Linked DNA regions of Homo sapiens. The protein of the gene in region 1 interacts with the protein of each later gene in a pairwise test. Each region holds a gene or a part of one and is shown on either strand. Other genes may lie near its edges.

What was found.
Region 2: the proteins of CPLX2 (region 1) and PTCHD1 interact in a two-hybrid assay, tested with the Homo sapiens proteins (one study listed by BioGRID and IntAct).

What each region holds. Positions count from the first base shown.
Region 1 is NC_000005.10:175,878,078-175,881,577, forward strand, and holds part of CPLX2 (complexin-2), read left to right. Parts: intron 1-574; 5' UTR 575-662; coding exon 663-693; intron 694-830; coding exon 831-1,006; intron 1,007-1,770; coding exon 1,771-1,968; 3' UTR 1,969-3,500. UniProt on the Homo sapiens protein: Negatively regulates the formation of synaptic vesicle clustering at active zone to the presynaptic membrane in postmitotic neurons.
Region 2 is NC_000023.11:23,383,098-23,387,127, forward strand, and holds part of PTCHD1 (patched domain-containing protein 1), read left to right. Parts: intron 1-4,030. UniProt on the Homo sapiens protein: Required for the development and function of the thalamic reticular nucleus (TRN), a part of the thalamus that is critical for thalamocortical transmission, generation of sleep rhythms, sensorimotor processing and attention. Can bind cholesterol in vitro.

The DNA.
Region 1 (3,500 bases):
TCAAAAGTCAGGATCTGTTTATCCAAGCTGGCTGTTCTCATTTGCTCAGCTGCCTCCGATTGGCTGGGGCAGTAACACCGGCTGGTCTTTTGATGGGCTGATCCAGTGGCCCAGGCTGGGCCCCCTCCAATCTCCGCCGGAGCCGGGGAAAGGTGGCATTGCCATTTCTCTCTTAGAGAGGAGGAAACTGGGGACTCGAGCAGGTTAGGGCCTTGCTGAAGGTCCCATGGCAAATAAGGAAATGACGGTGGCGTTGGAAACCAGATCTGCCTGACTCCAAGTTCCAGGCTCTTTCCAATGCTCCTGGCTTCAATCAAATCTGAACAATAGGGTCAAGATGAAGGCTTTAAAATAGGGACCAAACCGCTTTCAAAAAGCTATTTGGCAGCACCTACGTGTCTGCCCAGTAAATCGCTCTCTTCCATCTCCTTTCTCCTCCAGCAGGGCATTGGGTCTTGACCTCAGAGCGATGGGTGCCTGGTGTCTGAACCAGGGTGAGGCTGCTGTCTGCCTAGCTCCCCCGCCCTGCCTGTGCAGAGGCCTCTCCCATCTGACTCCCAATTCTCTTCTGCAGGTTGTCACATCTTCCCAAGCCAGGCCAGCCAGGAGCGCTGCATGCAAATTCTGCCGTGGGCTAAGGCACGCTAACCAGAGCCGGCGGCATGGACTTCGTCATGAAGCAGGCCCTTGGAGGTGAGGTCCAGCGCCCCTCCGCGTGTCCTCAGCCGGTCCCACCCTTGTGGGAGGTGGCCTCGGCCCACCCGGCCCCTCTCTCCCCAGCCCTGACCCCTAGCTGACCCCGCCCTCTCCTTCCCACCCCTTCCTCGTAGGGGCCACAAAGGACATGGGGAAGATGCTGGGGGGAGAGGAGGAGAAGGACCCCGACGCGCAGAAAAAGGAGGAGGAGCGGCAGGAGGCGCTGCGGCAGCAGGAGGAGGAGCGTAAGGCCAAGCACGCGCGCATGGAGGCGGAGCGGGAGAAGGTCCGGCAGCAGATCCGAGATAAGGTCAGCTCCGCCCGCCCGCCCGTCCTGGGGAGGGCCACAAGCGGGTAAAACCGGTCCAGCTAAAGCCCCTGCTGGGGCTCCCCTGGATCCCAGCTCTCACCTTCGCCCTAGTTCTGAGCCTCACTCTTCTCATCAGCAAAACGGGTATCACAAGGTCACCTCCCTCAAGGGATCCTTTTGGGGATTAAATAAGAGAATGCGCGTAGTAGGTACTCCAAGAGGGTGGACCCTACGGTCCACCATTTCGTACTGCAGATCTTTGGGACCAAAAATGAGTGCAGTTCTGAATTTGGGAATGTTCGAAAAATACCACAGTGTCCTAAGCACTTTGTGCTGTCAGCTGTCACTCCCAGCGGGTCTGGGGCTGCCACCCTACTCCAGACAGTCCAGTGCATGTCTGTTAGTGCGTGCAATAAATAAAGGCTAGAAGTAGTCTTCCATTGGTTCAAGTCAGATTCGTCACCAAAATTTGGCTCAAAATATATGGGCAAACGCCATGTGTTCAGATCTTTGGGGGTTTCAACACAGCAGGAAGTTCTGATGGGCAGGTGTTAATTTTAAAGGAAACCCCACGTATGGTCTCTCCCACTGAGGACCAGGCACCATCCTACAGGGAAGACACCCTTATCCCCACTTTACTAATGACAGGACTGAGGCTTGGGAGGCACTCCTGGCCACCTCAGCCAGTGCTGCATGATCATGAGACTCCTGCTGTCTCCTTGCCCACCCCGCTTCATGCGCGTCTCTGCCCTCCCCCTCCCCAGTATGGGCTGAAGAAGAAGGAGGAGAAGGAAGCAGAGGAGAAAGCAGCCCTGGAGCAGCCCTGCGAGGGGAGCCTGACCCGGCCCAAGAAGGCCATCCCTGCGGGCTGCGGGGACGAGGAGGAGGAGGAAGAGGAGAGCATCCTGGACACGGTGCTCAAATACCTGCCCGGGCCGCTGCAGGACATGTTCAAGAAGTAACCAGGCCTCCTGCCCCAGCCTACTCCACCTGTTACTACTTCTTTTTGGTTCTTTCTTTTCTTTTTATTAGGTTAAGTCTCAATTCTGAAGGGGAAAACCTCAGTTGGCCTCTGCCCCTCTTCCCTGGCCAGGGGCTTCTCCCCCTCAGCTCTCCCTCACACCTCCCTTCATCCCAGGGTATCCACCTGCACCCCACTCCCAAGTAGCTTGAAAAAGGGAGGACAGTCTTTCCCCAGCAGGGGTCAGGGGGGCCCCTCAGGAAGCCTAAGGTCGTGCTAGTGTGGTGACCCCCATACATTCCTCCCTGCTCCCCACTGCCAGGAGGACCACTGTCCCCAGCCAGCCAAAGTAATGACACATTCCAGCCCTGCCCAGCATGCTGACCTTTGGCCTCTAACCCTCAGTGGGCCCCCAGGTCAGGGCAGGGGCACTGAGTGGCCTGGCTCTGAGGAAGGGAGTCAGGGGAAGCCTGTCCCGGGAAGGCCCAGGCTGAGAGGCCCTGGCTCTGGCCAGGCTGGGATCTGGGTGGGAGGCTGGGGCTCTTCTTCTTCCATCTCCTTGGTGACACCCAGCCCAGGGGCACCCCCTTCCCCAGCCCCCACCTGGAGAGACATGGCCCCTGCCAAGCTGGTCCCTTCAAATGGATCCTTTGTGGACTTTAGCTCATTTGTGGAGGAACCCCAGGTAGGGACGCCCCTTGTTCCTCACCCCCACCCCACTTAGGTCCTGGGCCCCCACTGCCAGGCTGGGCCCAGCTTGCTCAGTCAAGGGGCTGCCAGGCCCCCAGAAAACACTTGGAGCCATCGGGTAGCGATGGTCTATGCCATGGGGAACACCTCCATTGGTGTGGCCAAGCTGCCCCCATTCCTATCCACCCCTCTCCCCACCCCGTCCTGTCCATGCGCTTCCAGGGCCCCACGGTCCCCAGGAGGACGCTTCCTGGCCAAAGCCCCAAGCCTTTGGTGAGAAGCCAATTCCCACTTGACAGAAGGCGTCCATCCATTCATCTCATTGGCCAAGGACAAACTCTCCTCTGGGACGTCTGGGACTGGCATTTGTCCCCCACTCAAATTATCAAAGCTTTCTGCTCAGTCAGTTGTGTGGGGATGGTGAGGGAAGAGGGGTCACATGAGGGAGGAAACTGTATCCATGCATGCATGATAATGCGTGGCAGAGACTGCAACAGGGATTGTGTGTTCAGAGATCATATGCATATGTGTAGGGCTGGAGCGTGTGTGTGTCTTGAGATTGTGTGTGTTGCAGTCATCATATCTATGTGTTACAGATTGTGTATGTTAGCCTTGTGTATGTGTGCTTGATTGAGGTGGTGTATTTGGGTTGAAATTGTGTCATATGTGTGTGCTATCCATCTCGTGTTTAGAGGCTGTATATGTTAGCTTGTGTAAGAATGTGTTTTCAAAACAGTGTGTGTATTGGGAGTGATGGGTATGTGTTAGGTATGTGATGGGTTGTAGAAGCGTGTGTTTGAGAGAATTCAGAGACATTTGAAGGCTGCTGTGTGCATGTTTGGG
Region 2 (4,030 bases), on another chromosome or scaffold:
TGCTAAGAGTTTTGGCACTACAGTAAACTGTCCAGTGTTTAAATTTTCCTGTGTATAACTTAAAATGGCTATGCTTAACCTAAGCAGATTTAAGCAAAACTTGATTTAGTATGTTATATAAATACAATATCAAATCAAAAAGTATATAGCCTCATTTAAAAGGTAAAGTATCTTAGAAAAAGTCTCAAACATGGACATTTCCTTGGCTATCAATAGGTCTATACTGTGATAAACATTATAGATTTAAAATTCAACAAACTGAACATTGTCAGTGTGATTCTGGTCACATAGGCCAAATCCAGCCAAATGCCAAAATGACACTAGATTTAGAATGGAAAATTTTAAGATCACATGTGTCAAGCAGTATTAACCTGACAAAATTCCAGAAGAGGAAAGAATTTGGATAAACTCTTAAGAGTTCACCATAATGGGATGTGACTGTGTGTTTCTAGCCAAGATGATATGTGACAGTTCTGGCAATAAGAATATATCCTACACAGATGAATCATTTTGGCAATGATGTAAGCATAGATACATCATGATTTAGAATGTTTTTAATCAGTGTTGTGCATACTAGACAATCCCACTTCTGCCAAAACCTCTGTCCAGATGAGTCATATCAGTTTATTTAGAGCTGAAATCCTAAAAGGTCTACAGCGTTATAAATGTTCATCGACATTTTTTAGTTACTCTAATTTGGAGAAGAGTTTATTTGGTCTATACCCTTATCGTGCATAAAATAATAACCCTTTCCAAATATATTGATATCAAGTAGTGAGTTACTTGAATTGCTACTTGTGAATATATGATGCTAATTATTTTAATCTGTGATGGAATTTCCTTTAAAGGATGAAGATTTACACCATTATTCTCCAGTTGGGTATGATTTTTAAAATTAGCATAGGTTTTCTGTGTGCAAGCTCTCCTTACAGGCTTAATGTTTCAACAGCTTTGCTGATCAGATACAAATCAGGAAAGGGATAGAATGTTAGATGATGTAGAAGGGAACCAAAAGAAAGTTTTCTCCCTTCTGCATCTGGAAGGTTTGTTGCTTCATGTACATCCTGTACAGCTAAAAAGGAGAATTGAAGTCGTAGTGAAAGAGTTCGGATATTAGTTTCTACATGCAATCTAGTTTATAAAGGTTGCTTTGCATTTATCAAGATACAAGAGCCCCAGAGATTTATGAGATAAAAAATACTCTTTAAGCCCTTTTTCAAATGTTTGGGATTTTGAGGTCAGATGTCAGATCCAGGGTGTTCTCTTCCTTTTGAATTATCCAACCAGGCCACTCAGATTCAAGGACGTGAAAGGAAGAAAGAATTAGTGGATTATTTCTAATTTGCGGATTAGTGCTAGGAAAAGAATAATAGCAGGGAAGTTTGGCTTCTTTTAGCTGTGCATTTTAACATTATTCATATGTAGCAGAAACCAGAAGATTGGGTTCCATTCTCCAAGAATTTGCTCTCATATGATGCCACTTGAAATATAATGCAGTATATGGAGCTCATAAAAAGGGAAGGAAAAAAAATTCTCATGCAAAACATTTAGTTCCAACTGAAACATTGAAATTCTTATTTTTTCTCTAAACTTAAGCAAACCTGAAAGAATTTGCTTTCCTGATGAGTATTCTGATACATTTCAAAAGTCATGAGAAAATGAGGGAAAAATCAGTCAGATAATAATAAAATTTAAACCATATGAAATTGCAAATATCCAACCATTTTTGGCCTACAAACTTGGTACCATTATCTGGTCATTTTTGAGCTACAAAAATGGTAATTTTGTGTGGTTCAGCCTAACACATTATTGTAGAAATCCATTATTTGCAACAATATGACAATTTTGCCTGATGGAGTAGAAGTATATTAGAATGCTATGGAAAGACTTTGCTTAGATATAAATCAGTAATAGGTTCAGCATGTTCTAGAGAAAACAACTGATTTATGAGGGTTTTGTTGTTCACATTTTTGTGTACATCTATTTTTTTAAAAGAGATCATTTATTTTACAGTATTTCCAAAGTTTGTCTCTCGAATATCGTTTTTTGTAATGGTCCATGGTCATTATGGGACTAATTTACAAGGAGATTATGTAATTTAGGCTTGTAATTCGTTCTTGCCCTTTTATTCTTATGCTCCACCAATCATATTAGGGTGAGAGTAGGTGGAAATAAATAGGTTTAGGGGAATGGAACAAAACAAGTTTTATTGTTCTATTTTTAACCATAAAGTAAGACAGGAACAGGACTTGGGGGCACAAGTCCAGGAAAGCAGAACTCAGTCAGAGGAATACAAAGGGGCTTTGTCTTTGACCCAGGATTCCCAGATATCCCCTGGGTGGTCTGTCTACCCGGTCGTGCCCAGGGAATGAGGGAGTGACAGACCCTGTAAAGGTTGGGCAGCAAGAGGCAACATCAGGACACTGAACTAAACATAGACCCTGGGGAGAAATACCTAGTATCTACATTTGGACTAAACTCTCAGAAAGTCACAGCTGGGCAGTCTTGACCAGATGGATATACAGAAGCTCACAACCGAAACAGGTTCACAGTTATTGTCAAGGAAACCCTGCATTTCACCAAGGCTACTTTATTACTCAAGAACCAAAATATAGACAGATGGAGCCCAACAGAGGGATTCTATAGCCCCTTCTCTACACTGATTGGTGTAGCAACACTAACATTATTTTGCCTCATCAGTAAAATAAATTTCACATCAGCCTACTATTCATCTTGTGTGTATGTGTGTCTTTATAGCCTATGTGCATAATATATATTATATATCACATTAGCTGTATTATATATCATATGCAATATGATATGTAGTAAGCTCATGTTATGTATTTATATGTATACAATGTGTTTATAACATATATTATGTAATATATATTGCTTGAATATTTAAATAGAAGCTATTCTCTGTGTATACTATCTGGTATATAGGAGTCCAACATTTTGTATGTAAATATATAAAATATATTTGAATAGGATATGCCATATATACATATGTTTATATATCACATTTGTATTCTATACGAAAAGAAATTAAGCAATGACCATAGCATATATTATGGGCCACATTTATACTTATACACACTGGTCTTATATAATGTACATACACACAATATCTAAATACTTTAAACAAGGAAGAGCTATAAGCAAATTCATTTCTAGGGCTCTCTTTTACAGCTATCTAGTGAAGAAAAATCATTCCTAAGACTAAAACCCAATGCTCTGGTTAGAATTTTCAAAATGTGACAAGTCTCTAGTACAAAGAATAAGATGTGTGTGTTCCCCCTGATGTGAGCATCTGTCTTTACTTAAACAGAGTACACCTTTATTCTTACTCTTAACTCTGAGACAAAACAGGCTGCAATAAACCAAACAATTCAGCTTGTAAAGTAAATGTTTATAACTGGCAAAGTGTAAATGTAACCCAATTAATAAACTTCTCCCTGAAAATAGATGTTACTCAACCCAGACATATATACACTTTAAATTTCTTCTCAAAAACACAAAAATCATGAATTTATGTGGATGACATTGAAAAACAGGCATCTTATAAACATGAGCTACTTAGTGAAGCTTTTCTAAGAATAAAATAGGCTTTAAGCAGATTTTGCTTATGGATTATAGTCTCTGAATTTTTGAGACGAATGTAGTAATTTTATTTCCATATATGAAATTTGGCACTGCCCAGGCATGCTATAAACAGCTTCATTGACTCATGATATTAAATGTTTTCACACTGAAACTGAAAGATCATCCATCAATCAGCAAGCCATCCCATTTCCTCCTTCTTAGCCATTCCTTACTTTGAGGAACTCAGGATGAGGAAATCCTGCTAGTGTGGAGAGGTTTAAAATGTGAGTAGCACCCAGCGGCATCTCTCAGCTGCTGTGTTGTGGCTATGTATACTGGGACAGGCGCGAAAATCTGGGACTGAAGAAAAATCTGACTTACAAAATCCAGAAGTATTATACAAAGTAGATCAATTTGCCTACGATTATTCATTGAAAACCAAACAACA